Linked DNA regions of Homo sapiens. The protein of the gene in region 6 purifies or fractionates together with the protein of the main gene of each other region. This does not show direct contact. Each region holds a gene or a part of one and is shown on either strand. Other genes may lie near its edges. The genes, in order: RET, LEMD3, PCDH10, COLEC12, SLC44A5, SMIM5 and ANO6.

What was found.
Region 1: the proteins of SMIM5 (region 6) and RET purify together in Homo sapiens (affinity purification with mass spectrometry; one large-scale study listed by BioGRID and IntAct). This does not show direct contact.
Region 2: the proteins of SMIM5 (region 6) and LEMD3 purify together in Homo sapiens (affinity purification with mass spectrometry; one large-scale study listed by BioGRID and IntAct). This does not show direct contact.
Region 3: the proteins of SMIM5 (region 6) and PCDH10 purify together in Homo sapiens (affinity purification with mass spectrometry; one large-scale study listed by BioGRID and IntAct). This does not show direct contact.
Region 4: the proteins of SMIM5 (region 6) and COLEC12 purify together in Homo sapiens (affinity purification with mass spectrometry; one large-scale study listed by BioGRID and IntAct). This does not show direct contact.
Region 5: the proteins of SMIM5 (region 6) and SLC44A5 purify together in Homo sapiens (affinity purification with mass spectrometry; one large-scale study listed by BioGRID and IntAct). This does not show direct contact.
Region 7: the proteins of SMIM5 (region 6) and ANO6 purify together in Homo sapiens (affinity purification with mass spectrometry; one large-scale study listed by BioGRID and IntAct). This does not show direct contact.

What each region holds. Positions count from the first base shown.
Region 1 is NC_000010.11:43,111,569-43,115,068, reverse strand, and holds part of RET (proto-oncogene tyrosine-protein kinase receptor Ret isoform a precursor), read right to left. Parts: intron 2,971-3,500; coding exon 2,845-2,970; intron 2,217-2,844; coding exon 2,106-2,216; intron 1,514-2,105; coding exon 1,394-1,513; intron 590-1,393; coding exon 333-589; intron 1-332. UniProt on the Homo sapiens protein: Receptor tyrosine-protein kinase involved in numerous cellular mechanisms including cell proliferation, neuronal navigation, cell migration, and cell differentiation in response to glia cell line-derived growth family factors (GDNF, NRTN, ARTN, PSPN and GDF15).
Region 2 is NC_000012.12:65,242,583-65,245,718, reverse strand, and holds part of LEMD3 (inner nuclear membrane protein Man1), read right to left. Parts: intron 2,332-3,136; coding exon 2,250-2,331; intron 51-2,249; coding exon 1-50.
Region 3 is NC_000004.12:133,155,794-133,159,293, forward strand, and holds part of PCDH10 (protocadherin-10 isoform 1 precursor), read left to right. Parts: intron 1-3,500.
Region 4 is NC_000018.10:490,702-494,201, reverse strand, and holds part of COLEC12 (collectin-12), read left to right. Parts: intron 1-3,500. UniProt on the Homo sapiens protein: Scavenger receptor that displays several functions associated with host defense. Promotes binding and phagocytosis of Gram-positive, Gram-negative bacteria and yeast.
Region 5 is NC_000001.11:75,216,115-75,219,614, forward strand, and holds part of SLC44A5 (choline transporter-like protein 5), read right to left. Parts: intron 3,231-3,500; coding exon 3,143-3,230; intron 2,639-3,142; coding exon 2,376-2,638; intron 1,847-2,375; coding exon 1,752-1,846; intron 1-1,751.
Region 6 is NC_000017.11:75,639,169-75,641,904, forward strand, and holds the end of SMIM5 (small integral membrane protein 5), read left to right. Parts: exon of another isoform or gene 1-997; coding exon of another isoform or gene 998-1,033; coding exon 1,034-1,160; intron 1,161-1,622; coding exon 1,623-1,729; 3' UTR 1,730-2,236; downstream 2,237-2,736.
Region 7 is NC_000012.12:45,348,595-45,352,094, forward strand, and holds part of ANO6 (anoctamin-6), read left to right. Parts: coding exon 1-37; intron 38-2,064; coding exon 2,065-2,180; intron 2,181-3,500. UniProt on the Homo sapiens protein: Small-conductance calcium-activated nonselective cation (SCAN) channel which acts as a regulator of phospholipid scrambling in platelets and osteoblasts.

The DNA.
Region 1 (3,500 bases), on a different chromosome or scaffold from region 6:
CTGAGTAGCACATGCAGACCTGCAGGCCAGGCTCCCCAGAAAGGCACCCCCTTCTGACTTCAGTGCCCCTCCATCCACACTGCTGCTCCCCTGCCCGATGCTGTGACCCTGACCACTGCCTCTCACCTAGATGGGAACGGCACCTCATCACAGTCCCACCCCACAGACTGTCCCCACACAGCGCCCTATGGAAATGGGGGCAGAACACAGGCCTCGTCTGCCCAGCGTTGGCAGCCCCTCACAGGATGGCCTCTGTCTCCCCAGCTGGCCTCCCTCCCTGGAAGGCAGCTGGGGAGGGCAGGGGATCTTCCCTGCCCCGCAGGGACCCTCACCAGGATCTTGAAGGCATCCACGGAGACCTGGTTCTCCATGGAGTCCAGCGAGGGCCGGCGGGCACCGGAAGAGGAGTAGCTGACCGGGAAGGCCTGGGCGGGCCTCCGGAAGGTCATCTCAGCTGAGGAGATGGGTGGCTTGTGGGCAAACTTGTGGTAGCAGTGGATGCAGAAGGCAGACAGCAGCACCGAGACGATGAAGGAGAAGAGGACAGCGGCTGCGATCACCGTGCGGCACAGCTCGTCGCACAGTGGATCTGTGGGTGGGGGTGGTGTGAGGCTTGGCACCGCCAGAGGCTCGGCACCACTGGGTACAGGCTGCGTATGCTCTGCCTCATGGCTCTCCAGCCTGCCGTGTCCGCGCCAGCTGGGAAGTGGCCATGGAGGTGTGGGAAGGCCTGAGAACACCCCATCGAGCATGGGTACTGCCATTTACTGCCCCCTCCTAGACCACTATTGCCCTCTTACAGATGGAGACAGAGGCTCAGAGAGGCTGAGCAGCCTGCCAAGGTCACACAGCAGAGGCTGTGCTCATTACACCAGCTGGCACTGGAGGGCTGGCAGGGGAGGTCAAAATTTTCCTCTGTTCCAAATGTCTTTGGCATTTTCTTTATGAAAATGCTAAGTGGCTAGGGACGTAGGGCTATATAATACCAGAAAACTCAATGACAGAAACGTGTCCCTATGCTCAGGCAGAACAGCACCCCTGAGTGTAGTCAGTGTGGCTGTGCAACCCACCATACCTGCTGACCTTGAAATGTGTTCCTGGGTGGGTCCCAGCTGCATGGTCACAGGGACAGTGACTTGTCAGGCTGACAAGTTGTTTGGTGGAAGAACTGCTTTTCTGGCCTGTCCATCATAGAACTTATGGCCAGAAGACACTTTACAGGGGCCCTGGCCCCTCTCCTGGGTGGAGTAACAGAGGCCCAGAGGGAGGGAGGGAAGTTTCATGGGGCCCACTCGCCTCCCAGCAATTTCCTCCCTTGTTGGGACCTCAGATGTGCTGTTGAGACCTCTGTGGGGCTGGGAGGTGGTGGTGGTCCCGGCCGCCACCCACTCACCCTGGATGTCTTCGGGCTCGCAGAAGCACTTCTCCTCCTCAGGGAAGCAGTTGCAGGTGCCATAGCCAGCTTTAATCCCCCGGGGCTCCCCAGGCTCGTGTCCCCCAACAATGCTGCCCCCTGAGGGCAGACGTAGCCCACTCAGCCTCCTGGGGCGCCTGACCACCCCAGGCGCCCATATTTCCAGGGCAGTGTCCCAAGGAGCCCCCTCCCCAACTGGTGTCGCAAGCATAGGCCCAGTGAGGCCAGGGGCCCAGCAGCTTGGCTTAGCCGGGCAGGGCTTGGTCACAGTGCCTTTCTGAAGCCATGGGTGAAGCCAGGCCCCCTCCTAACATTTCATCTGAACAAAGGACTCTGCCTCCAAAACTGGAGCCTGGTGGCCTGACCCGCACATTGCAGTGTCCCTCGTCTGGCTCAGGGCCGCACTTTCCCTGTCAGTGTCCCTACTGACCATTCTCTGCTTCTGAAATCTGTGTGTGCCGACTTCTGGGACCTCAGCAGGGGCCTGGACAGTCTGTGGGTCCCTGCCTTCCCCCTGTCCCTGACCCTGCCTGCTCCCTCCCCATGGCTAGGGTGATGCTGAAATGCACAGGAGGCTCAGCTTGATGCATAGAACTGACAGCCCTGGCAACTCTGGCTGAAGTGCCTGTGGGATCCAGGTTTCCCCTACTATCTCCTACCTGTTCCCATGCCCTGATTAAACCCTGCTTACGGAGGCAGTCCTGAGGGCAAATGTTGATGTCTTGGGTCTCCACAACATCGCAGTGGCCGTCGGGGCAGGTCTTGGTGCTGGGAGAGCAGGTGGAGAAGTTCCTGGTGATCCCTGCACAGGACACACAGCAGGCTGTCACCCATGTGGGAGCCCCGCCACACGCCCCCACCACCTCCTAGGCAGATCCTGCCCCTCTAGGGAGGAGCAACTGGAGGCCTGAGTAGGGAAACACCATATACAGAGCCTTGCCAGCGGAAGCATCCTGGGGAGCCATGGCTTATGGGAGAGGAGGTATGGGGGGTTCCTCACACAGGTGGCCCTTACAGCAAAGAGGCCGGGACCCTCTCAGGGCTGCATGGTGAGGGCCCCTCATGGTGGTGGGCACACCCAGGCTGGCCTCTGGCTGATGCAGACAATGAGTCCCCTGCCCACACCACATCCCCTGGCCGAGGACCTCCCAGAAAAACGCCATTCTGTCCCCAGCACATCCCAACTTTGGTTCAGACCTTCCCAAGTCCAGAGTGAATCCGGCCTGGGGACCATTCACTGTACTCACAAGCCCTCTCCCAAGCCCTGCACTGCTGCCCGCTATGCTGGCATCGAGAGCCACATGGGGGATGAGGTGCCAGAAGCAGACCTGGAGCAGGGAGAGCCACCCCAGGCTGGCAGGGCCCCAGGACCCCGTTTCCACCGGTGCCATCGCCCCTGCAGGCCTCCCTTGGGCGTTTCCAGGGCTTACCTTTGCCATCTCCTTGCCTCCACTCACACCTGCCTGTTGGGGAGCCCAGGCCGCCACACTCCTCACACTCCAGCCGTCTCTTGCTGACTGCACAGGACAGGGGGCAGCCCGCCTCCTCGGCCACATCTGCAGGTGGCAGACAAGCAGGGTCACAGGGGGCTGGCCTGGGCCCAGCGTCCAGCTAGTGCCCAAGGACAGGGAACAGCACCAGCTGAGCTGCCCACGGATGGAGCCCAAGGGGACCGGAGTGACAGACCCAGGGCAGCAAAGACAGTGCCAGGAGCACAGGGCGCAGGGCAGGGTACAGGACATCATGGTCACAAAGCAGGGGTCACCTGGGCTGGGGTAAGTACAGGAGGAAGGATGTGAGTGCAGCCAGATTCAGCCAACGACGCCCTGTGGGACCTACATTTCAGATACACAATGAATGGCATGAATGGCAGCTGTGTCAGCATGTTCCTAAGAGGGCATGGATGGACCTAGAGGTGTGTCTTTCGAGAAGCTGCAAAAGTTGCATGGAACACACCTATACCAAAAAACTGCTTGTTGTTTACCCAAAATTCAAATTTACCCAAGGTCCTGTATGTTATCTGGAAGGAGCAACCATTTACTGCTGGGTCACTCAGGGTGAAGCTGGTCCATGCCTTCCCCACTCC
Region 2 (3,136 bases), on a different chromosome or scaffold from region 6:
TTTCTAAAATTGCTTCTTGAATTGCCAAATGCCACTGATCCCCTATTTCCCTAAAAGTTAATGAAAACAAAAATCAACAACCATATTCCTACTCGGTAAAAATTCTTCACTGTCTCTTACAACATATATATATTACTAGAATTGGTATAGTTTTAAAACCACATACGATTTTAATTGGTATTAAGTAAATGCTTGTTGACTAACAGGAGGTAGATTTAAAAATTACAATTCAGAAGTCTCAGCCCTCCTCCCACTTTCCAGTAAAAGAGTGCAGAGCGCTGGCCAGGCGCGGTGGCTCATGCCTGTAATCCCAGCACTTTGAGAGGCCGAGGCAGGCGGATCATGAGGTCAGGAGATCGAGACCATCCTGACTAACACGGTGAAACCCCGTCTCTACTAAAAATACAAAAAAAAAAAAAAATTAGCCAGGCGTGGTGGCAGGTGTCTGTAGTCCCAGCTACTCGGGAGGCTGAGGCAGGAGAATGGCGTGAACCTGGGAGGCAGAGCTTGCAGTGAGCCGAGATCACGCCACTGCACTCAACCCTGGGCAACAGAGTGAGACTCCGTCTCAAAAAAAAAAAAAAAAGAGTGCAGAGAGCTGAGGCAATGAAAGACTAGCCCACCGCTGCAGAATAAATGGATTGGGTCATTCCTATGTTTAAAAATCCTGTGTACTTACAGTAATTTCTGTTTTCTTTCTATTGTTAATAAGTACTTTAAATGAGTTGTGAACTTATTAAAGTTGTAAAAGTTAAATGTTAGTTATTTGAGACAGGGTCTCGCTTTGTCACCCAGGCTGGAGTGCAGTGGCGTGATCTCGGCTCACTGCAATATGTGCCTCCCAGGCTCAAACCATTCTCCCACCTCAGCCTCCCAGATAGCTGGGACTACAGGCACACACCACCAATTCTGGCTAATTTCTTTTGTATTTTTTGTAGAGACGGGGTTTTGCCACATTGCCCAGGCTGGTCTCGAACTCCTGAGTTCAAGTGATCCACCCACCTCGGCTTCCCAAAGCACTGGGATTATAGGTGTGAGCCACTGTGCCCAGCCGAATGTTATTTTCTTTAATTGTAATGATAGGTTCAAATTCCTAAAGAAAATTCTTAGTAAATACTACATTTGAGCTTCTCTTTTCCAAAATAATTGATACAGGACTAACATTTTGTACAGTCACCTTACTATAATGACAGTTTTAAGGTGTTTCTGCTGTAGTAAGGGACATTTGTCTTGCTTGTGAGACAAAGATGGCAGGAGAGAGAGGAAAGTGACTTCACTTCAAATCACAAATTTTCATCTTAGGTAATAAAATAGTGGACTTGCCAATTCCTAAGGCATGAGGTAAGATTCCCAACAGAGGTATCATCACACTACTAATTGTTTCTATCTCTGCAAAATAGAGGCGGTGTTTGTCTCTGTGTGTGTGGGGGGGGTGTGTGTGTGTGTGTGTGCGCGTGCCCACGTGCAAACACGTGTGCATACTGCTTCCTCACATTTCCAATTTTGCTGTCACTTATTTGGAATTTCATCAATGAGTGATTAGATGAGACTTTGGGGGTATTGTATACATATTGTAATTGCCACTGTTGGGACTTTTAAAACAAACAGAATTTGATCTGTACTATCACTGGATAGATAAGCAGTGCCCTCAGGAAGCTAATTCTAAGAACTATTACAGCTTATATATGAAATACTGTGAATTCTAAGGCAGTCACTTTTGACTGTGCTATTCTCTGGAAGCATATGTTGTTGGAATTATAAAGTCTGAAAAGTTCTTCAAATATTATATTGACAAGTGGAGACAGGACTTTGTAGAGAAGCAGGTATATACATCTTTGTAGGAAACTTTTTACAATTTGAGATTTGAAATTTGTAAGCAGCAGTGATTGTATCTATATTTTCTACTGAGGCAAAAATATTGACAGTCATGTATAATGACTTACACATTTAATAAAGGGTACTCTTTGTCATTGTGAGTCATTAATTTGCCTCAAGCATTTATCTATCTGCTATGACGATTCATAAGGAATACAAAGATTTATAAAAGTTTTACAAATCTTTATACATTAGTGTCCTTTGGCCAAATCTTTGCTTGGAATTTAATGAAAGAGAAAAACATAACATTTCTGTGGTAGAGATTCAGAAGAAAAACATTTTCAATTACAGACACACCATTATAAGAATATCATGCATTTTCCAGCCAAATATTCAGAATAAGAGTTACATGTACCCCTGATCATAATACTTACATAACGGGATCAAACATATTCCGAATCTTTAGACACGGTGTCAAACTATTTGGTGGTGAATTTCTTCTATCTAAATGAAATGCTACAAAAAACAAGTTAGTTTTACTATTTGACATTGTTCTAGTTTGTTGAAAGGTATTCAATCATTCAGTTCATTCAAAAAATATTCACTGCATGCTTTTACTAGGAGCCAGACCCCTGGTTAGATGTTAAGGTGAGTAAGACAGTCATTGCTATCAAAGAGTTTACAGTTTAATGGGAGAGACAGATGATAAAGAGTGTCATGTAAGAAAGTACAACTGTGATTAAGTCCTTAAAAAAAAAAGTACAAAAAGCTTTTTAAAAGTAACTTAACCTCATATGAGAAAATAAAACTTCCCTGAAAAAGTGAAATTTATGTGGGAACTGAAGAATAAAAATTAGCAGGGTGAAGAGAGGTGTGTAAAGGAAGATTTCAAGCAGAGGTGATTGCTTGTACACAGCTCCTGGGGCACGAAGGAGCAAATGTGGCTGGAGTAGAAAGAATAGAGATAAACCTACAGAAGATGTCAGATTATTTAAGATGATGTAGGCTACAAAAAAGTATTTGGGCATTATGGTAAGAGTAATAGCCACTCAACTGTTTTAAGGAGTAGAATAGGATGAGATCTGTCTTTTAAAACTACATATTTTAAAAATACATTGTTATGTGGAGACTCAGGTAAAAGCAGAAGTGAATGCAAGATGACCAGTTAGAAGGTTATTATTATATTATAGTTGTCTAAGAAGGAGAGGATAATGATGTGGGTAAGACAGGCCAACAGTGCAAGTGACAAGCGGATAGAATCAGGACATATTATGGAGTAGATATGACATGACCTGTTGAAAGGTTGGACAAAGAGGGATAA
Region 3 (3,500 bases), on a different chromosome or scaffold from region 6:
TAACTCTTATTACTAATACTAAAAGGAAACTCTTACATGAAATAAAATATGTATGTTAAAATGAAAATGATTTAATAAACTTCTGGTGTCCTTCCTAATTTTTTGGTTTTCATCTTTGAAGGGTGTTTGTTGAATATTTTACTTTTTCTATCTAGTTTTGTGTTTATTTGACACATGAAGAAATAGAAAGGCTAGTCAACTTTTCTAACTCCTGAAAATGTCGATCTTAGACTGTCTTTGGGTTCAACTCTCTTGAGACTGGACCTTTATTTTACTTAATAATATAACCATAGAGTGATAGGTTCTCATTTTCAAGGTGATATTAGTCCTCGAGAGCACCCATTCCTTAACACACTTGTGGACCTCTGGATGGTGCTGAGGCAGTGTGTCAAAGGGCAGCGTACACCCCATGGTGGCCTGGCAGCAGTGGTTGCTACAAGCCTCTCACTTGGCTAATGTGTGCTGTGTCTGTGGCTGCCTTAGCCTTGGGAAACCCAGGCAGGAGGAAGGGAAAAAAGGCTGCTCAAGGGTCTCTTTATATTGCTGTGAGTCATTAATATGCAGGCCTAATGAGACTTGAGAACTGCCAAGAATCCCCGGAGGTCTCTGCCCCTTGCGGGCCTTCACGCTAAGTGAACAGAGCATCTATTTAGTGTCTGGGAACCTGACAACAAACCAGATCTTGCCAGAAGTTTATATGTGCGTACAAAGTCCCTTTCATTTTTGCCCTATATATGGCATATGATTTATTGTTATCTTTAAAAACTGTACATTTAGCATTGCTCATTCCTGTTCTTTTTCAGAGTTTCTAATTTAACTGTCAACCTTTTAAAACTTTTAAAACAAAATGTTTAATGTTTTAAAGAGTATCTGTTGCATGTTTCTTTGGATGCATTTTACTCCTTTCCCACCCCACACGCCCCGCTTTGTTTTTCCTGTAGCACTTCAATCTCAATGAACATTTCAATTAGTTTAGTCCCTCAGACATAATGACCCATAATAACCTAACTGAAGAAAGAGAAATGAATAAACATCTGCAAAAGAGCCAAATTTGGAAGATAGATGAGAACATATTCTTATCAGTGCATCTTCCCAGTAGCTACTTTATTTCACAGTCACTCAGTGTTACCATTTCTGTAATGTTTCTTTCAAATTATTGGAGATGTCAAAGCATTTAAAAGAATACTAAAATGTTAAAATGTGTTGTGGAAAACATTTCAGCCAGGCAGTTTTTGTTTTTATCAAAATGTTAAAATTTTTTTGTATCTTTAAGTTCTTAAACATGTAAAAGTGTTACAGAATTAACAATCCTTTTATGTATCTTATTAGTAGTTACACGGCAGCCACAACATACTGGGCACAATAATAGCTATTTTAGGATTGTAATAAAGCACTTATGTTAAGAAGTGATTGCACCTTTGTGTGCTGAATTGCAATCAGATTTAATGTCTAATTTTATTGTAAGAATAATTTTGAAGTGTTTTCTTTTTTAAGTATAAAACCTCAAATGCAGAGAATTAAAATGCATTTGCTTAAAGACTTTTTTCAATCCATACTGCTGTTATGTACTATAAACCTCACATCAGGCAGCTAGACTATTTCCAAAAATTTAAGCCCATTTCAGATAAATCTGTTTTATTTCATTGTAAAGCCAGATATTAATGATTTTCCAATTTTGCAAAATTAGGTAATATTACTCATAGCATAGCTTTCTAAGTTCAGGATAGGAAAAAAACCTTGTGTTATAATAAGCAAATCTCACTTAACTAGGTTTTAGTAGGGAAAAGTTAGATTATCAAGCAAAACTAACATTGGAAAGATAGAGACTCCGAATTCTCTCTTTCAGTTTGTACCATATTCCACACTATAGTGTACAGACTATTTAGCTTAGTGCTTCACCTGTTTAAACTTCCTTTTTCTTTATTCCTATTTCTTTTTCTACATTAACATTATTCTGTATTATTTATTTAGATATGCCTTCTATTTATTCTTTTATGAATAGTTTTCTTTTTTTGTTCTATCTTCCACCCCCTCCTTCTTGCTTTTCTTTTTTCTAAGCCATTTGCCGTCACCAATGTTGTTCATAGAAGGGCTTTAAACACGAAGGCAGCTGCACAGAGAATCACATAAGCTTTTTCAGTTTTCCACTGCACCTGGCTCCATGTGTGAAATTCTTCGCCTTGACCACTGCTCTGTGGCACTTTCTTTCTATAGCCTTGTCAAGGTGCTTCCCGTTTTTTTCAGTGAACTATTGATGTATTGGTTAGATATGGCAGTAGTCCAAGGAGAAGTGGCAAATGCAGACATAAACCATCACAAGAGGAAAAACTGATTAATCACAGCTTAAACAGCCAAAGAATTGGACTTTAAAGAAATATATTTTCAACTTTATTATATCATTAAAGCATAATTATTTCTTCTATTTTAGGATACAGATAGAATATTTTAAATTGTATATTCTTAAACATTTTAATATTATTTGAGGTATATCTAAAGTGATCTGTTTAGTAGTGAGAGGTTGCTTTTCCCGTTATAAAATACCTACATTGTCAATAATGCTAAGCTTAATTATAGATTTATTTTTAATACCTTGTGCCTTTAAAAAAATATGTTGAAGAGATAATCCTAATAAGTGATTGAATTACTTGTTAGACATTCTCTGAAAATTGTCAAATTTCTCTTCAATAATTTTTTCTTTCAGTTATAGGAGAACTTATCTTCCAAATATGTTTAGTTTCTAACTAATTATAGATATAATGCATGGTCAAAATTTGGCTATGAATTTTAAAAATAAAGTGATTTGATTGGTCAATAATTTCAAATTAGTAGATAAAATATACCATTGAAATGCATTAAGCCAGTGCATTACTACAGTGTCAGCAATAGAATTCTTGGTTTATTATAAACACAAATACCTATTTCCAAACTCCATTAAGAATTTAGATAATTGCCAAGTTTGATTTTGGGTTTATATATAAAATGGATTTACACCAGTATTTATAAAACCTTATTCACTGGTGAAACTTTGAGCTGCAACTTGAAAATGTGCAGAGATTTATAACTGGAGGCAATATAGAAGATGAAATATTGAGAGGAAATGGTGAAAAATATATACATTTTGAAAGATTATTGGTAGGGAGAAAATTTTGATGGGCATATTTTGATTTTTTTCATGAGTGAGTTATGTTAATAACTATCTGCTTCAAAACCATGTTTTTCTAAAACATACTGCAATTTTTGTGGTTACAATTAATGTATTTTAAGTCGTTAAAAGAGGACTAGAAATCTCAAAAAATGAAAAGTTTTATATCTTCTTTAAAATTAATTTATCATATTTGGAAAAAAATAAACGCTTTGAATGAAAGCTTGTTGCACAAAAAGAAATGTTCACGCAATATTGTATTATGACAGTCACCGAAAAAGTAGCACAAATTGAATTCTAAAATTTTTGAAATCACAATTTGGTCTCAATGGAAATATCCACTGCCTGTGAGTGTACA
Region 4 (3,500 bases), on a different chromosome or scaffold from region 6:
AGGAGTGAGTTGTGCTCCACGTGGGGAAGTATTAGTATTGGTTGCATTCCAGCTGCCGTCACTGCTATCATCATAAAAAATGCAGGGATAATTCCCAAAGTGAAGTTTGTAATTGTAGTAATGAAACAGTTTTTCTATTTGTTATAGTAGTGGTAGAAAATTGATAAATATGTGTAAGTATATTTAGATTACCTAGGAGCACTGTTTTTTTTTTAGTACTATTGCTCACGTGCCTACTGATGACATGATATTTTTAAAGATCTGTGTTTCAAATCCAGTGTCCGGTTTTATCCAGTAAGGATATGACATCAAGGAATCACAACATTAAACAAGTTTGTCTCTAAATAAGTATTCGGACAGATGTATGTATAAGTATGTTTTTAAACCATATGATGTCATGTCTATTTCATCAGTAGTATTAGTTTTCCATTAAGCTGTCATATTTCTGTTTTATTATTTATAATTGGGCCACCAAGTTCTAACTAGCCTTCATTTATTCTTTAAACAAATATTTGGTATTAACTTTCTGTGTGCAAGGCCCTCTAGAAATGCCAAATAAAATGAATAAAATATAGCTTCTGTGCTCATGGAGCTTGCAGTCTGGTAGACAAGACAAGACTTATGCGTAAACAACTGGAATCCAAAGTAGAGAGTAGAACATGCCCTGTTTGAGGTTCAGATAATCTGGCTGAAGACAGGGACATTTTCATTTGCAGGAGAGATTTGAATTATAGTTCATATTTCAGATTACATTATATTTCATATCTTGAATTATATTTCATATTACATTAATAGGGCAAGCAACATTAAAGAAAAATGTCTTAAAAGAGAGGAGGGCTGAGCCTGATGACTCGTGCTTATAATTTCAGTGCTTTGGGAGGCCAAGATGGGAGGGTTGCTTGAGGCCAGGAGTTTGAGATCAGCCAGATCAACACAGCAAGATCCTGTCTCCACAGAAAATTTAATGGGTGCGGTGGTGAGTGGCTATAGTCCCAGCTACTTGGGAGACTGAGGTGGGAGGATCCCTTGAGCAGTGGCACAGTCTTGGCTCACTGTAACCTCTGTCTCTTGGGTTCGAGCGATTCTCCTGCCTCAGCCTCCCAAGTAGCTGGGACTGAGTACAGGTGCGTGCCACCATGGCCAACTAATTTTTGTATGTTTTGTAGAGACAGGGTTTTGCTATGTTGCTCAGGCTCGTCTCAAACTCCTAGCCTCAAGTGATCTGCCCGCCTCAGCCTCCAAAGTGCTGGGATTACAGGCATGAGCCACCGTGCCTGACCTGAAATCTCTTAAGTGTGACATTTCAGTGTGGGAGGTGAGAGGAAACCAAATTCAGAGTCTTCTTGAATTGTGTCTCTTAAACTCAAAACGTTGGTCCAACATTTGTAAATAATTATAGTATATTGCTTTGGCATAATTGTTTAGATAATCTAAACAACGTTAATGGATTTCAAAACAAAAAGACGTATCGGTGTTATTTTTAAACCAAAGACCTCTTTTTTTTTTTGTCTCCAGAGAAATGGACAGCATTAGTTTTTCTTGCCAAATCACCCATGTATTTGAGGCCCTGCCAAGGCCCTTATTCAATTTAAGGCAGAGATTCAAGGCCTCATTCTGACTCTCTTATTAACATGATTAAAATGACTGGATGAGAATTTTCCTCATAGAAGAAAGGGAAGTGCATCACCTCCACCATAATCACCTATGAATGATGAATGCAGATGTCAAGGTTTTGGATGTCGTACTTACTGATTACTTCTAAGTTCTTGCAGTTGGTGGCTGTGGGGAAATCTGATTTAGCCCCCACTGCCAACTTAGGGGTAAAAGTAACAAAAACACCCTTTCTCAGTTTTGTTAGACTGTAAAGGAAGGAATAGGGTACCCATGCCTCTTTATTCTAAAAGCAAGTATCTGCCATTTTTACAAGCATCAGAATTGCAAGTTGTGCCAGAAATTGGAGTCATTTTATGTCTATAATTTTGACTTTTGACTTGAAAAAACTGTGCAATTGAATCAAAAGTGATCCCATTGTTGCAAAACAAATTCAGTAAGCAGCTGAGTAATCAAAATGAATCTCCTGTGATACTTTAAAATAATCTACAAGTATTTAAACTGCTACAGATTCCTTCATCCATTTGGAGTGAAACAGTTGAATGGAAGGCCGATCTAATTACCCCCCTACAAAATATCCTGAACCTCAGATACTTTGTTACGCTGCATTGAGTTCATTCACCAGGAGAATACATAATAACTGTGTTCCAGAAATGCCAAGACTGGAAAAAGGAAACCATGCGGGGAGCCAGGTTTACATTTGTAAAGCTATAAAACCAGGGCAAATATTACCGATACTGTGCTTAGGGACATATCAAGATAAAAGGACACCTTTCTTCAGTTTTTACAGCCCAAAATACGTTAAGATAAATTTTCATCAATATCAACCAGGTACTTCAGTGCCAATTTGCTGAAGCCCAAATAGAACCTGCAGCACGCATTACTCTTTTGCTCATCAAGCTTTCCTGTTGGTCCTTCCCCCAAATAGTCACCTCAGAATGGAGTTTTGTGTCTTTTGAAGCCAGATGATTAAAGTTCTAGGATATTTATTTTGGACCTTAAGGCATAGTAGCTTTTACCACTGCCTCTGTCCTCTTACTTCAAAGAAAATTCATATTTATTAAGCAGATGGTATGTGTTGGATGTTTTCCATGTGTCAGTTCACATTTCCCTCCCCAAAATGTGTGAGATAGGAATCATTGGTTCCAGCTTATAGGAGACTGAGAGGCAGACATGAGCTTATTGCTATTACAAGGTGGAGCCAGTCTTCAAACCCAGGTCTTTGAATTTCAAAGCCCACACATTACCATTAATTCTATCAGCCTCTGGTGTTAGGAAAGAAGTCTTCCAGATATCACAGCAACATCAAGGGGACATTCCAAATATTTAGCAACCCAGGTGACACACTGTGGAAGCCACCATTCCCATATGAAAGCAACTCCTTGGAGCACTGGTCAGTGGAGAGTGACTGTAGACTCAGGGGTCCTGATGGCCCCAGGGATACAGGGGCAAGGACCTGCTACAGTGGGTGGTGGTGACAGTAGAAACAGGGACAGCTTGCAGAAATGCTCAGAGCAGAGGCCATTGTTCTTCAACCAGCTGGTTTGGAAGCACTTAAATATTTTAACAACCAGTGATACCATACCATTTTGTTCTAAGAGTAATGACAAATGTACAAGAGCTGGGAATGGACCCTGGTCTAAACACGATAGAGCAACCAATGGGTACTCATATGTAGACAGCGCCAGTGGGCCAGCATGGAAGAGAAGTCTAACTTCAGCCTAGTCCCTGTCCACGGTCCTTCAGGCTGGCTCCTAAAAATGTCTGCATTTGCTATGATGTTTGGTTTGGCATTTGTTGGAAACCTGCTTTGTGTCAAGTATTGAAGGCTCCAGCTTCAAACTGCGTCTTCTGTGGTTTCAGGTTGAACTCCACACTCTGGCTCTTTG
Region 5 (3,500 bases), on a different chromosome or scaffold from region 6:
ACTGCTCATTCCCCTATTCCCCCAGCTCTTAGTAAACTCCATTATATTTTTTGTCTGTATAAATTTGCTTCTCCTAGGTGCTTCAAATAGGAGGAATCATACAATATTTACCCTTTTGTATCTTGCTTATTTCACTTAGCATGATGTCGTCAAGGGTCATCATTTCATTCCTTTTTAAGGTTGAATAATATTTGATTGTGTGTACATAACACATTTTGTTTATTCATTTGTTAATTGGAATTTGGGTTGTTTATACCTTCTGGCTATTCTGAATAATGCTGTTATGAACAGTGATGTGCAAGTATCTGTTTGAGTTCCTTCTTTCAATTCTTTTCATGTATATCTAGATATAGGATTTCTGGGTCATATAAAATTATATTTAAAAATTTTTTAGAAGCTGCCATACTGTTTTCTACAGTGACTACATCATTTGACATTCCCTCCAGCAATACACAGGGTTCCAATTTCTCCACATTCTTACCAACACTTGTTATTTTCTGCTTTTTTCTTTGTTTTTATATATATATAATAGCCATTCTAATGTGTATGGAGTCTCATTGTGGTTTTGACTTGCATTTCCCTAATGACTAGTGATATTAAGCATCTTTTCATGTCCTCATTGGCCATTTGTATATCATTTTTGGAGAAATATCTATTCAAGTTCTTTGTCCATTTTTGAACTGGGTTGCTTATTATTTTGCTGTTGAGTTGTAGAAGTTCTTTTATGTTCTGGATATGAATTCCTTATCTGGCATATGATTTGGAAATATTTTCTTCCATCATGTGGGCTGTCTTTTCACTCTCTTGGTAGTGTTCTTTGTTGAATAAATGTTTTTAAATTTGATGAAGTTCAATTTATTTTTCTTTTGTTGCCTATGCTTTGGGTGTACTATCTAAGAAATAATCACCAAATCCAATGTCATGAAGCTTTCATCTTATGTTTTCTTCTAAGAGTTTTATAGTTTTTGTGCTTTTGTTTAGGTCTTTGATCCATTTTTAGTTAATTTTTGTATGTTAATGTAAGATAAGGTTGAACTTCATTCTTTTGCATGTGGATATCCCATTTTCCCAGCACCATTAGTTGAAAAGACTGATCTTTTCCCATTGAATGGTCTTATATGTGAGAGTTAGTTTCTGGGATTTCTGTTTTATTTTACCTCTATATGTCTGTCCTTATGCTAGTACCACACTCTTTTGATTGCTGTAGATTTATGATAAGTTTTGAAATCAGGAAGTATGAGTCTTCCAGCTTTTTTGTTCCTTTTCAAGTCTTTTTCCAATATTAGTAATAAAATATTTTAAGGTACATTCCAAGCAAAGTTTATGTGTTTGTAAACAATATATATCAGGTATGAAGATTTATGCCCGTGACACCCACATTTATATTTTAAGCCTAACCTGACCTGAACTATATACTTGGAACTGCCAACCTGACATCTCCATCATGCTTCTCAACAATAACATCTCAAAACAGAATTCTTAATCTCCTTTTTGAAATTTGTTTCTTCTGGCTTCCACAGCTTAACAAATAGGATCACACACCTTTTCTCTCTTTTATTCACCACTGTCCCTCCCCTCCCCTGACATCAACTCCTTCAGCAAGCTCTCTCTGGTTTTCCTTCAGAACAGAACGGGTCCCAAATATGCCCTTTCATCCTTACTACCCTAGTCCAAGTTATAATCATCAGGTCTCCCCCAACCCCCAACCCAATTTATTATCTTCACAAAAGTCAGGACATCTGAAATCTTACGTTTAAGACGGTGGTCCAAGTATTCTAGTACAATTTTAAACATTTGAATTAATGCAATAATTAAAGATCCAAATGCTAGGGATCCTGTGTGATATCTGCACAAAAATAAAATGAGAATAAGTTAAAACTTAATACTATTATTTAAGGGGATGCTAATTGAATAATTTTCACAAGTAAAAGGTATCTGCAGAAGGATTAACAGCAAAGAGACTTTTGCACTCTCTTATTTAGATTGATAAAAGTCTCTATAGAGGATTTTAAACCATATACATCTGTCTTACCCTTTATCAGCATAAATGACACCAATAGTCTATCATCATAAAATAGGATGTTTTTACTGCTCAATGGAGACACAGAGCCAAGTTAATCCTTGATCTTTCATTTGGTATCCTCCTCTATCTTTTTCTCTCTCTAGTAACCTATAGCATTTAGAAGGAAATTGGCTTGGGTAGGGATTGTAAAACTGGCTATGAAACCAGACAAAACCAATGGGCATCCATGAATTTTGATTCATACCTTTGATTTCATTTGTACCTTGCCACTTGAATTAATGAGCCAAGACTGAATTACAAGCACACTAAATGTAACTGACAAGATAGGTGTAGGCTTCAACTTGAAACTTACCGTATGGCTCGTCCAAATGCAGTAAAAAGTGGATATCGTGGGATGTCATCAGGTTTTTTCATGGCCCAGTAATAAGTAGCGAATGCACCAGCAAGGGCGCACTGACCTAATGCAATGACGAAGTTTATAAGCCAGAGAAAGACAAATAAGTTGTATACATGGAAGGTAGGGATGTACTGATGGTACAAGCTCTTTCCACCATAGAAAGCAAAGTTACACAGAGCCCCAGGGCAAGCTTTGGCAATTTCAGTTGTATTAAAAATCTGCATTGAGAAAAAGGAACACAAGGACATAATATTAAATATCACTCCAAGATAACAACTCCCTGTGTTTTCCTCTTCCCCTTAATTGCATATCCTGTTGTTTCTCTGTTAGCTCCTGCTCTTACTCCTCTATTTTCTGTTATATCACTTTATATAATTATCTAATGAGTGCTGGAAAGTATCCCATTTTTCATCAAATGCTCATAATCTGCACCCACTATAATTTCACATTTATCAGTGTTGTTGTTGACCATACCTACTTTCTATGGTCTTGGGTATATGGTAGGGCAGGCAAGCTCAGGAAATACAGTGCTTTCTCTCCATTCCACCCACTGTTTTCCATACTCTCCTGCTTACCTGATGCACACTCCCCACTTCAGCACATAGTTGTCCCCATCAGTGTATAGGATCTCTGCTTCGGGACAATTCCTACCACAACTACAAAATGAATTGCAGCAGAAGTCTATATTGAAGTAAGTAAATGAAAGAGTTTCTTGTACTTACCTCTGGGTCACAGGTTTGATTTTCATGTATACAATGCCCCCCTGGAGCTATGACTTTGTATACAGGTACCCCCGATGTCGCCAAGAAACTGAATAAACTCCATTAAGGATAAACCATTTGCTGGTAGATTGAAAATAAATGGACAAGAAAACAATACTGACAACTCAAAAGTGCATGAGAAATTAACTTAAAAAATGCCTAATATTTTAATAATATTCATCTATTTTTCAGGCCTAGATTAATGTAATGTGGGCCAGCTGCACTGAGTGGCCCCTTAAAAACAGTAAAATGTATAGGAGCTTTCTTGGCTTATTGCTAAGGAGCAGTATCATGTGGAGACAAAATAAAACAAATCTAC
Region 6 (2,736 bases):
CGTAGCCATCTCAGCGAGAACCGGCTGAGACCTGGGACAAGGCAACGATAATTACAGCCAAAGGTCTGGCACCAGCCCCTGGCCACCTGTCCCCACCACCACCCCTGGATTAGAGCAACTGCCTTGGTGAACTGGATCAGGCTGGGTTGGGACAAGGTTGTCTCTGGCTCCTCTCTAAAGAGGCACCAGCTCCCTCATGCCCACAGGAGAGGCAGAAGGGGAAAGCCTTCTGGAGTGGCACCTTGGGCCTCTTGGGCACCCTGAGACAGGAAGAGGCTCTCCTGGGGCAGGGGTGGGAGTGGAGAGGACTTTCCTGGTCAGGCTAGAGAAACAGATGACGCCAGCAGGGGAGGGGCTGGCTTGAGCAACCTGGGCCTCCTGACCCCCTCCCAACAGACAGGACAGAAACCCTGGCAAAACCTGGAGGGACACGGTGCGGCCTCCCCCTCTGGCAGAACAGGCATGAGTGTAGAAACTGGGCTGGTGGGAGAGGTTGGGGGGCCTGGGGGACAGGGGGGCAGTTTTCACCTCTGACTGACCCTGGCCAGAAGCCCCATGAACCTGCTCTCGGGAGAACCTGCTCCTTCTGTCCCCACATTGATGGAAGGCAAGAGTACCAGCTTGGCATCCTATCCCAGTCTCCCCACCCCGAGGGAGCTGTGCCAGTCCCAAGCACCCAGGCAAAACCCAGTAGTGGTACCTCAAGACAAGGGAATGGAACAGCGAAGCCAGAAACCACCACCAGCCGCCGCCTTGGCCGGCAGCCCCCGAAGCAAGCCCTTGGTCTCACTGTCCTCACCGGCTTCCTCCACCCTGAGCTGTGTCAGCTGGGTGGGGACTGAGGGCCACCACTAGGTGGAAGTCACCAGGGGTGCAATGTGTGAGACCTGACAAACTTGTTCTGCGGGCTGCGGATGGGTGCGAGGGTGGAATCTCGGTGCTGCGACGAGTGTGGGGCCAGCCGTGGAGGCTCCAGGTGTTCTCTCTGCCCCAGCAGAGCCCGGCAGGAGCCCCAACAGGAAGCCAGCGCGGCATGGCTGCCACCGACTTCGTGCAGGAGATGCGCGCCGTGGGCGAGAGGCTGCTGCTCAAGCTGCAGAGACTGCCCCAGGCTGAGCCCGTGGAGATCGTGGCCTTCTCAGTCATCATCCTTTTCACAGGTTAGTTGGGGCACTCAGCACCCCATGGCTCTCCCTGGCATCTGGGAGAGACCACACCATGGTGCCAGCCAGAGGGCTGGCAGAGGTGGCGGGTGTCTGCCGGATCAAGGAGGAAAACCAGTTGTCCCTTGGGGGAAGCCAAGGGACTTCCCTCATCCTCTGATATGCTGCTTGGGTGATGGGCGGTGCTGGGGACTGGGCCCAGCAGTACCCCGGGATCCCAAACGCGGGGATGACGGGAGCCAGGCTTGGGCAGTGAAAGAGAAGACACAACATGGAGGAGGTTGGCCCTGGCGGCTGGCATGGGGACCGTCCGCACCTCTCACCAGCCTCTCGGATCTTTCTGACCTCCACCAAACCTGTGGGGGAAAGACCCTGGCAGGCAGTGGGTTTCTCTGGGAGGAGGGTGGGCATCCTTTCTCTCCCCCAACCTGAGTCCCGTGCTCTCTCCCGGCCCTCCAGCTACTGTTCTGCTGTTGCTGCTGATAGCCTGCAGCTGCTGCTGCACTCACTGCTGCTGCCCTGAGCGGAGAGGCAGGAAGGTCCAGGTGCAGCCGACACCACCATGACGGACGGGCGATGGCTGAGGAGAAGCTGGAGAGGAGATGGCCAATGCCATGACACAGGCCATCAGCCTGGCCCTGCAGCCCTTACCCCTCAAGACCAGGCTCCCCTGGCCCCAGCTCTGGCCCAGCCCAGGTACCTGGACACTGACAACTTGAGCCCTACCAAGGAAACAAGGGCTGGTATAGGTGCAAACCTCTCATCTGCCAGTGGACACTGGGTGCTGGGGAGTCAGCTGTTTCAAAGACTGGGTCAACTGCCTGGGCTTCTTCGCCTACCTGCACTTTTTAACAAAACAAGGAAGTAGGGGTCCCCATACCTTGATGGAGAACAGTCCCCACCTGTGGGCAATTGGCCCTTGGGGCTCTGCTGATACATGCCAAAGAGGAGCAAGGCAATCAGAGGGGCTTTGTGCAATAGCTTCTGCATCCGAGCTCCCGCCAGAGCGTGAGCATGTCAGTATTCTAGTCCAGTATTTGCCAGTTTCCAAGTAAAAGCTTTTGTGTTACGTGTTTCTGCGGTGCCGGACTCCCTGAGGTTGGGCTGGGCTCTGTACATTGGGAGGGGGTATGGCTGGTGCCCGTCCTTCCCAGGCCTCTGCTCTCCCTGTGCCCACGAAAGCTGGAAAACCACGCAGAGAAGCATGCCACACAGGCGGTTAACACCACGGGACCAGTGGACGGTGCCATGAAATTCCTGTCATGCATTAGCTGCTAATGAGCTCTGCCAGGCTGAGGCACTACTCTGCAGAGTGGCAGAGACTGTGTTTGCCCAAAGGCAGGAGCTAAGCTCAGGAACAGCACTTTACTCTGTCAACTGCCTGCACCTTTGGCCTGCACATCCCACACTAGCAGACTCAGACCAGTGGGTCTTCACAAACTGCCAGAGGAAGGCCCTAATGTCACCTGTAACCTGCCTCCTGACCCTGTGGCCCTCCCCCATTTGTGTGCTGTCTGGGCTCACACCCTCACCCTGTCAGCTGCGTGACTCAACTTCCCTAAGCCGAACTCCC
Region 7 (3,500 bases), on a different chromosome or scaffold from region 6:
CTCTGGGATCTACAAGGCAGCTTTCCCACTCCATGATGTAAGTTAAAAGGCAAAAATGAACTAAAAGGCCTTCTGTATACTCTGGTGTTGACAATAGCAAAGGGCTAACTTTCCTGACTGTAAGTTTCTTCCTCAGTAAAATGAAGGGAACATACTGCAAGATTACAAGCTCATTTAGGGTAAGAACTAGGTCTTTTGTTCACAGATGGATCCCAGTTATAAAGATACTCAGTTTTAAAGGAGCGAATGAATGAATGGACAGGACCTCTCTCACAGTTAATGTGTAAAGCAGTATAGATTAGCAGTTAATCTGTGTTAGCATTTCTGAGACCAAAATGCCTGCCCTGCCACTTTCTAGCTGGATGACCTTGTGAAAGTCATTTAGCCTTTCTTCCTCCATTTCCTCATCAATAAGCTGGGGATAAATTATTACCTACCTCCTAGAGTTGTTAAGAGGATTAAATTAATCCATTAAATTAATCCAAATGTTAGTCCCTAGCATATAATAAATACTATTATAAGTGTTAGCTGTTTTCATAATTACTAACAGATGTTATTATCAACCAGAAAAGATTAGTTCTTTGTCAGCAAAATACATGTTAGACCTTCTCATTTATCATTTTCTGCAACATAGACTTTTCTTCCTCATTTGGAATACGATTTTCAAACTGTCCCCTGGAATATCCCTGGGCTTTTAAAAAGGCATCTGTCAGGGTTGTTGTGACAATGGCAGTACCCCAGATGGTTGACATTTTTTTAAGGACTACATTCTGAGACCACAGCAACCCCTCAAATTCAAGAGTACTTCTCTAGCCGAGAACATCTCTCGTGAAATGAAATTTTTAAAATGTGACCACTGTAAATGCAGGGACATTATAACTAAAGCTGTTTAAACTCTGTCATTGAAATAAATTAAATACTATATTATATTGCATTATTACTTTGTTATATTCACTATCAATTTATCTGACTGTGTAAGACCAAAGAAAGTAAAGACTGAGATTGGTAATTGCTACTGTGTAGTACATGTATTTGTGGATAGAGACGATATTGAAATGTACTGAATAACATAATAAAACTAGGACACTAAACAGCAGCTTGATACACATGGAAAAGTAGAGAACAGGGAGCTGGGTGAGGTAAATACTGATCCTAAGAGACCCAATGTAGCCATCCAGCCTGAGAGTCCATGTGTTTTACTTTTGTGCCCCACTGAATTTAGCTAATTGCGAATAACAGGACATGAATTTTGAGGCCACTTGCAAATAGCTGTCACGAATATTAATTTGGGATGCCAGGGTTCTCTAACAGTTGACATTTGCTTTTGGCCATGTCTTTTCCACTAAAGCCTCTTCTAATTGCAGTGGTCCTGTATTCAGGCTAACAAATGGTCCCATGTGGTATTTGAGAGGGAGGTGTGTGAAGGTCAGGGCCTGTGCCCTGATTTGGCTGGGTGGTAATCTGGTTCTAGTGCCAGAAGAAGAAAAATGAGTCAGAAAAAAAGGCAACTGGATTTAAGCAGGAAGTTTTGTTTCTTGAATAAGCTAAGTGTGTAACATGATACCCAGCTTTATTGTTTGTTTTCTGTATGTTATCACAGAATAACTGCTGAACTGGGGGCAAAGAAGCCTAGGTTTTAGAATTGACCCTGCTGCTAACCAGCCAAGGCCTTGGTTTCCCCATTGTCCAAGGAGAGGGGTGGGTTATCACGTGTTCCTCTGGTGTGGTGATTTGGGCACTTGGGTGGCCCAATTTTTCATTGTGTAGGACTGCCCCACTTAAAGCATTTTAAGCATCTCTGGGGCCCTCACAGAGTCCCTGCAGTGCTCCCCAGGATTGTAACACCCAATCGTTCATCCCTGCCCACATTCATAAATGACCCCCAAGGAGGGTAGTACCATGCCTGGTTAAGAATCACTAAAAATTAGATGGTATTTCCACCCTTTCCAGAAGGTGAGGACCCCTTGTTCACAATTGACTATCAAGTATTTGTATCACATTTAAGAAGCAGATTTGTGAAAACACGATGATTATGGTGCTTACATGTTCCCTTCTGCGTCACAGTGCAAATTCCGCCGTCAGTCAGAGGATCCCAGCTGCCCTAATGAACGGTACCTTCTGTACAGAGAATGGGCTCATCCTCGAAGCATATACAAAAAGCAGCCCTTGGATCTTATCAGGTGAGGGGTTGTAGGGAGTACTCCAGGGGGAGGCACTCAGGGTGTTACCCCCACAGCATCTGAATGTGACAGTACTCATCAAGACTCTTGCCAGTGAAGGGAGCTGACCCAGAGTGCTGAGCTTCGTTGGCCAGGGTTTTTATTGAGGCTTAATTATGTGGGCATGATTAATTGAATCATTACCCATCTCCAGTATCATCCTCCCCCTGGAAGATGGCCAGTAATATGTGGCTCAAAGCTCCAGTTCTCCAATCACATGGTTGATCTTCTGGCATGGCCAGCCTCCACCCTGAGTCATCTCATTAGCACAAACTCTCTAGAGGTCCACCATGAGCCACTTCACTGGCATAAACTATCAGGCGTAGTCCTAGGGTCCCACTGTGAATAAAAAGGCACTCCTATCTCTCAGGAAGTTCCAAGGGTTTAGAGGTTACCCACCGCCCAGGAACTGGGATGCAGACCCACCAAATTCCATATTGCACAGAAGTAAATGTTAGATGTAGTTTCTATTGTATGGTAAGACATGTACATTTTCACTCTTTTCTTATGTCTGCCTCTAGGTTCTATTTCGTTGTATCTCACAAGATACAATGACTAGCTCAAGAGTTTTTCTTCCCAAGGTACCCTGTTGGTTTTCCTCCAGAAGCTTACGTTGTTTGGGCAGGGCTGAGGATTCTGGCTTGTGGGAGATAGACCAAGAACACCCAAACAAGCCAATAAAACATGAAAATAAATAAACAGAATTTCTAATGGAAGTGAAGAAAATAACAGAGCAATAGGATGGGAGGGCAGAGTGGGAAGTGAGTTGAGGGAGTTATCTTTGAGGAGGTGACTTTTAAGCTGAGATCGGATAGTGAAGAGGAGCCAGTGCTTTGAGGACTTGGCAGAAGTCCTTCTAGGAATAGGGGCAGCTTGTACAGTGGCCCTGAGATGCACACACATTTGGCAAGTTTGAGGAAACATCAGAGACCAGTGCTAGTGAGAAACAGAGCAAGACATGAAGTTAGAGGGGTGGCAGGAGCGCCGAAAAGAGTTTAGACTTTAATTGCAGTGAGAAGCAGTTGTAATATTTTAAATGTTTAAGTCATTGTATCCTATTCACGTTTTGCAGATAATGTGGAGAATGGATTATAAGGGGTACAGGGAGCAGGGAGACCACTAGGTAGGAGGCTGTTTGAGCCAGGCAGAAGACTGTGGGAGCAGATTTGGGATGTGTTTGGGGAGTCGGGTCGACAGGACTTGTTTATGGATTGGATGTGGAGAGTGACGAGGAGAGGAGAGTTAACTTCATGTCTGTCTGGAGCCACGTACCTGTTTTTT